Regions from separate parts of the Homo sapiens genome. Here region 1 is linked to region 2. The links come from fine-mapping of genetic effects on gene expression. A gene starts in region 2. The other region holds a variant in brackets. All regions are shown on one strand. Distances are from middle to middle.

Region 1 (2,908 bases), 34 kb after region 2:
GAACACATGGCATATGGAGGAAGAATAAAGGGTGCTTGGCTTTGAGGAGGTTGGGAAATGCTAATATACATGTGTATGCATGTTGCCCAAACTGTCGGCCTTCAAAACTCTTCCTTTTATTTTTAAATAACATGATTATTTAATTTGACCTGGAGTCAATATATTTTTCCCTCATTATTTAAAATGTTTTGTTGGCTTTATATTTAATATTGGAATCTATTCATCAAGTGATCACATTCTTAAAACATGGTCAGGAACTGGGATGCAGAATTGCAAGTACTGTAGATTCCTGGCTGAAAACGTAAAGAATTGACTTTTTAATCCTTTTAAGCTGTGGCCTTGAATTTTTTTTTTTTTTAAGAAAATTTAAGAATAAGACTCTACTGTCAAAACACAGGGAACATGGACGATTTAAAAAAAAAAACACCTGTCCATTATTCGTGCATTAGCTCCACATGGCCAGCTTGTGGCAGGCCCTCTCTGAATACTTTTTCAATGAGCAGCCCCTGGATCTTGGAAGAAAGATGCCAGCGGCCAGGGCCCTTCATTTAAAGAAGAGGACTGGGTCTTTTGCGTGAAATAGTTTCTGTGCCACGTTGGGAAAAATCTATCTAGGCCTCTCTTGACGGCCATGGAAAAAACACAGGTGACTCCTTATTCCTGAGAATTTGATGCAATTGAAACAGCGACTTTCTGCGAATCCAGTGTGCATAGTCTCGAACAGGAGCCCACGGACCCTTCTGCGGCCCGAGGCCTTGTTCTGACAGTCACCAGGCTCTGTGGCCCAGAGTCCTAACTGCGTTGTCCTTCGGCAGGTTCTGAATTGTGTCCTCCCTGAGGAGGCTGAGGCCGCTGCCTCCTTGGTGGGGGGCCCCGGCTGGCCACTGGGTCGGGCATGGGGCCTTACGGGGCCCTCACGGGTCCCGCCGCCGCCCTCCTGAGGCCTGGTCCTTGGCGCCGCAGTTACCCCAGCCCCGGGCCCGCGGGGCTGCGGGTCGGGCCGACCTCCTCCCGGACGGGCTGCGTCCTCTGCCCCGCGCCGGGGGCGGGCCGGGCCGGCAGAGCCGAGCCGCCGGCGTCCATTTTCTGGGCGGTGCTGTGCAGCGCTGCGGCCGGACTCACGGGTCCGGAAGCACCATGGACCCCCGGGGAAACGCGCCGGCGGCGAAGGAGCCGAGCCCCGTAAGTGCCCCTCGCAGGGTCTTCGCGGGGCCGGGGGCGGGGCGGGGCGAGGCGCGGCCTGCGGGCGCGGCGCCCGTGGCGCCGCCAGCCCGATCGCTCCTCGCTTCTGGAGGGAGCCGGGAAGCCGGGCTGGGGAAACCCTCGCAAGGGTTGAGCTCTGCAAACGCAGCAGAACCGAGCTGCCCGCGGGGAGGAAGCGCCCGCAGGTGCCCGGACTCCGGGGCCCGCGCCCGGAGCGGGGCGGGGCGGGGTGGGTTCGGCTGGAGAGTGCGGGCAGGTTGCGCCGCATCCCGTGGCCCAACTGCGCGGCTGTGCTAGAGGGCGGGGGCCGAGGAGGAATGCGCTCCCGGGGCTGGGGACGTGGTGGGCTCGAGTCCAGCGGGCTCGGGCACTGCTTTGACAGTCACACCTCCCGTCTCCTGGATTGGGAATCGGACCCTAGTCCTGACCCTATGGGAACTTGATGATTTCCTTGATGCAACACCAAGCCCCTGGAATTGAAAGGGACGTGCAAAGGCAGGG[A/C]CCTGCCCCCAGGGGTTTGCAGTCTCAGCCGCCTACTTCTGCAGTAGTAAGGTCTGCTCTGTTGGTACAACATACAACACAACCGCCCGCCGTTAGCCACTTTTTTTATAGGGTACATCATAAATCACCTGAGATTTTAGTCTGTCCGCGGTTCCACTTTATAACTCCTGCACTGCGGTAGGTAAGTGCCTAATTCCATTCTGGACGTTGGCCCTAATTGAGTATCCCTTCTAAGGATCGATTATAGGTGATATGTGTTATGGTGCCTTATACATATTTTAAAGGTTAAAGACTTTTCTTCTGTGAAGCTCAACTACTTGGTCAGATTCTCATGGTTACAAAATGTGGAAGAGTTTTGTCCTGGTTTCAGAGAAGCAGCTAGTGAGTCGCTATATCTAAGTGTAGCGTTTTTCAAGAGTGGGGGACCCATTCTAAGATTGTGGGATCAGTTTAGCGGGTTGCTACTGGAAATCTTCTTAAAGATATAGAATATATAGTACAATACAGAGAAGAATAGAAAAAATAACGTGCATTGCACATAGTAAGGGTAAGCATTGTTTTATGAGACTTTTGGTTTTCGGTTTATATAATGTAAATTTTTAAAACCGTGGGTCACTGTCTGAAATGTTTTTAAAACCCTGACTTACTGGTTAATAGCCCAGGCCTTGGAATCAATTGAATCTGGATTTGAGTCCTAATTGTCACATACACCAGCTGTGTGACCTTGAACAGGTTCCGTGGTCCATTAGAGTCTCCGTTTCTATAGCTGTAAAATGGGGGAATGTTCCCTACATCTGAAGGTTGTTATGAAGACAACACGAAACCACATATGTCAACCACTTTGTGGGTGTTTGACTTATGTGTTCAATATGTGCTAATTGCAGTTATTATTGTTGCTAAAAGATGAAATCCTAGCAGCTAGTCATGGGACACTGCACTTTTTTTTTCTTTTTAGATCTTGATGTGGAAGAAATGGAGGACTCAGAACCAAGGATTTCCAAGTGATTTCTTCCAAAGCACAGGAATCTCACTCTGTTAAAGCTGGTCTGTTCTAACTGAGGTAACTAAAGTCGCGTCTCTCCTTAGTCTACATGAGATAGGAAATGGTCTTTCTGAGGGACTCCCAAAGGGTATATGATTCAAGACAGCAATCCACCAAGTTTTGGGGTTACAAAGTGACCATGACACTCAAGTGATATGTTAC
Region 2 (2,908 bases):
GGATTTTGCATCTACCACATGCCACAGGCTTGCGTCCATCCGACCTCCCTAGTTTCTCATCCCCACTTGAACCTGATGACTGATTCGCCCTCCTGGCTACGCTGAGTAAGCCACCCACTTGCCAAACCTCAGACCTGGTGTTGACGCAGTAAGAAGGCATGAGGCCCATGTTGCCAGAACATTCCTAATTGTTTCATTGTTTCCTTGTAGGATGTGGTTTCAAGTCCCATCTTTGTCTCTTTTCTCCTGGCCAGGTTGCCCTTGGTCAATATTCCTTCATTCACTCCAGCCACTCAGCACCGTGATTAAGAAAACAGGATGTGAGATTAGATGATCCAGGCTCTGCCATGAACTAACTAGCTGTGAGGCTTTAGAGAAGTGTCTTAACCTCTCTGAGCATCCATTTCTTTCTCTATAGCATTAGGAATATTAATAGTACCTACCTCACAGCTTTTTTGTTGTGATAATACCAATAAATGAAATAATCTTCATAAAGCACAGAGGCTTGAATGTTCACTCTAAGTATTTAATATGTGTCCTCTACTATTTTATTTTACAATTATCATTCCTTAATTCATCATATAATTACCAAGCCTCATGCCAGGCACTGAGATATAAATATCCCCTTTAAAGAGTGGTCATGTCTTAAATCCAGGAAGAGCTAGTTCATGTTGGCACCCAGGGTAGGGAGCGAAGCCCAGGGCCACAGCACAGAGGCAGAGGAGAATAGACACTGACCACCAGGAGCTGCCCGGGGATGGTGACAAAAGTGCCTTCCACCTTTCCGCATCTCTTTCAATACCACTGCAACTCCTTGAGTAAGGTGGGCACCACACAGAAGAAGGGGGATGGCAGAGGGGCAGTGAGAGGTCCCCAGGGAAACACCCTCTTCTTCTTCCCTGCTTCTCTGACAGAGCACGGCCATGCCTCTGCCATGCAGGAGGGTGATGTCCTTTGGGGAGGCCTTGTTGAATCTGTCTGGGGCTGTTCCGGAAGTAGGAAGGGCGGCTGGGGGTGGGGAGACGGCAGGAATGTTCTCCTGGCCTGCTGGTCTGTGCCGGCGAGTGTGCTGAGAGGAGGGCCTCTGGACATCAAAGGTTCCTTTTGTCCCCTTCCGAGTGGCAGGGCAGCCCGGCCCGGGCTGCTGGCGATGACTCAGGCCTGGCCCTGACGTCACCCACGCCCGGCCACTGGCCTCCCTCTGAAGCCAGGAAACTAGTTGGGGAGTGGCACTCGCAGCTGCAGCAAATCTCAAAATAAAGAGGCAACGGCCTTTCTCTTCCTCTCCATCTCCCTATAGCACACCTTTTATTTCTTTTCTTCTTTTTTTTAAGCCTCACGAAAGATTTTACTTGTAGATCAACTTTCAAAATGTAGGAAGTCAGAATGGGTGACATCATCAGAAAAATATGTGGAGCTGATCACAAGAAGTGAAGAACCCAGAGCACGAAAGCGGTTGTGACTCCTGGGCCCAGGGAGTTGACAGCGTCTGGGTTTCAGAGGAGCCAGCGCCTCCGAGTAAGTGAAGGCCCACTTTTGGCCCCCCCTCACTCAGCGCCCTTCACCGTAGGGCGCCATCTTGTTCCCTGACGCCTACAGCTTGCCAAGCCCCAGCCCAGAGTTGGGAGTAGGGACTGCATTTGGGAGACCCTCTAAATACGGCCCCAAAGGGATCTGATATCTCTCTCCACAGGATCAGAAAAGAATGCAAAAAAAAAAAAAAAAAACAATACTAAGACGGAAACCCTGGGGAGAACAGCCCAACTGATGCCTTTCCCTGTCAACCCTCTTGTTTTGCCTCCTCTTCCTCCCCTCACCTGAGTATTCCGTTTCAGGCTGTCAGAATGTTTGTTCAGAGTTCTGGATTGTTTGCTTCCTAGATCTTATACTGAGCGATCAGACATAAAAATAAACCCTGTTCTAGGCAAATACGTGTCCTGTGCCATCAAATGGTATTTTCACACTTAACCTGGTAAAATATGACAGCCCTGGTAAAAAGATGTACATAATTGTGCTGCCTTTACTGAGCACGTTTCTGATTGTTCTGTGTATGAACCTCCATTATCTTATCGCCCTGTTTACAGAGGACTTATTTTCATTCCTACTTGTGCCATCGTATCTGGGATGATATTAAGCACAAAGACACAATGTGTCTGTTTTAACTTTGTCTAAAAACTCATAGTTCTTTACAAAGCCTATAATTTCACGACCTCTGGAAGTTCCTACCCAAGAAAGTTAAGTTCCCAAGAGAAAAGTTTTGACACATACATGAGAACAGCACGTAGGCATAGAAATCATACCCTGATTTTCCCGGCTTCTAAGTCATCCCCTGAGTCAGCATCTAGTCTTCGTATAGCTGACGTACCAGGGGAGATCTGTTCTTCAGAAATTCTATGTTAAAATGACTGGGAGCGGGGAGGCGTAAGTCTCATTTTAAAGGCAGTAAGGAAGCTTGTCATTTACTGGAAAACAGTGGCATATTCCTTTGTAAATGGACAACTCCCTTTGGAAATTAACTATCACACACTAAAATATCTGTTTTATAGGCCTTATGTTTTACTTTTTGTTTTACTTTAATATATTAGGTTGTCTTGAAGTGAGGCTCTGCTGTAGTCCTGTTCTTCTGGCTCTAAGATCTGAATGTTGTGACCACTAATTTGGTAAGTGTCATTTGTCCCCAACAGCTACTTAAATTTAAGTCTCCCAATTCTCCTTTTTTAGTTTGTGGTAAGATTCAAAGAAAAGGGGAAAGGGCACAGAGATTTCTGTACACAATGATTACAGCTATATTAAAAAGGATATTAGGATAGGCTAATTGTTATAATAGAACCCCAAATCTATAATGGCTCAAACACAATAGTTTATTTCTTGCTCATGTAACAGTACAGGTCAGTGGGGCAACTGTCTT

What was found.
Region 1: its variant is fine-mapped to the expression of ZBTB38 in whole blood (TOPMed, PIP above 0.99).

Annotation. Positions count from the first base shown.
Region 1 is chr3:141,401,268-141,404,175 of GRCh38, forward strand. ZBTB38 (zinc finger and BTB domain containing 38) reads left to right here. Exons shown (of 6, transcript NM_001376113.1): 5 at 2,660-2,764. Among named protein-coding and RNA genes, the nearest start is that of ZBTB38, 34 kb to the left of the region's middle. RefSeq lists silencers at 799-1,108, 1,189-1,478. The variant A/C (reference allele first, on the strand shown) is at 1,705.
Region 2 is chr3:141,367,287-141,370,194 of GRCh38, forward strand. ZBTB38 (zinc finger and BTB domain containing 38) reads left to right here and starts at 1,218. Exons shown (of 6, transcript NM_001376113.1): 1 at 1,218-1,518; 2 at 2,586-2,660. RefSeq lists enhancers at 17-792, 620-1,819, 885-1,114, 1,569-2,344.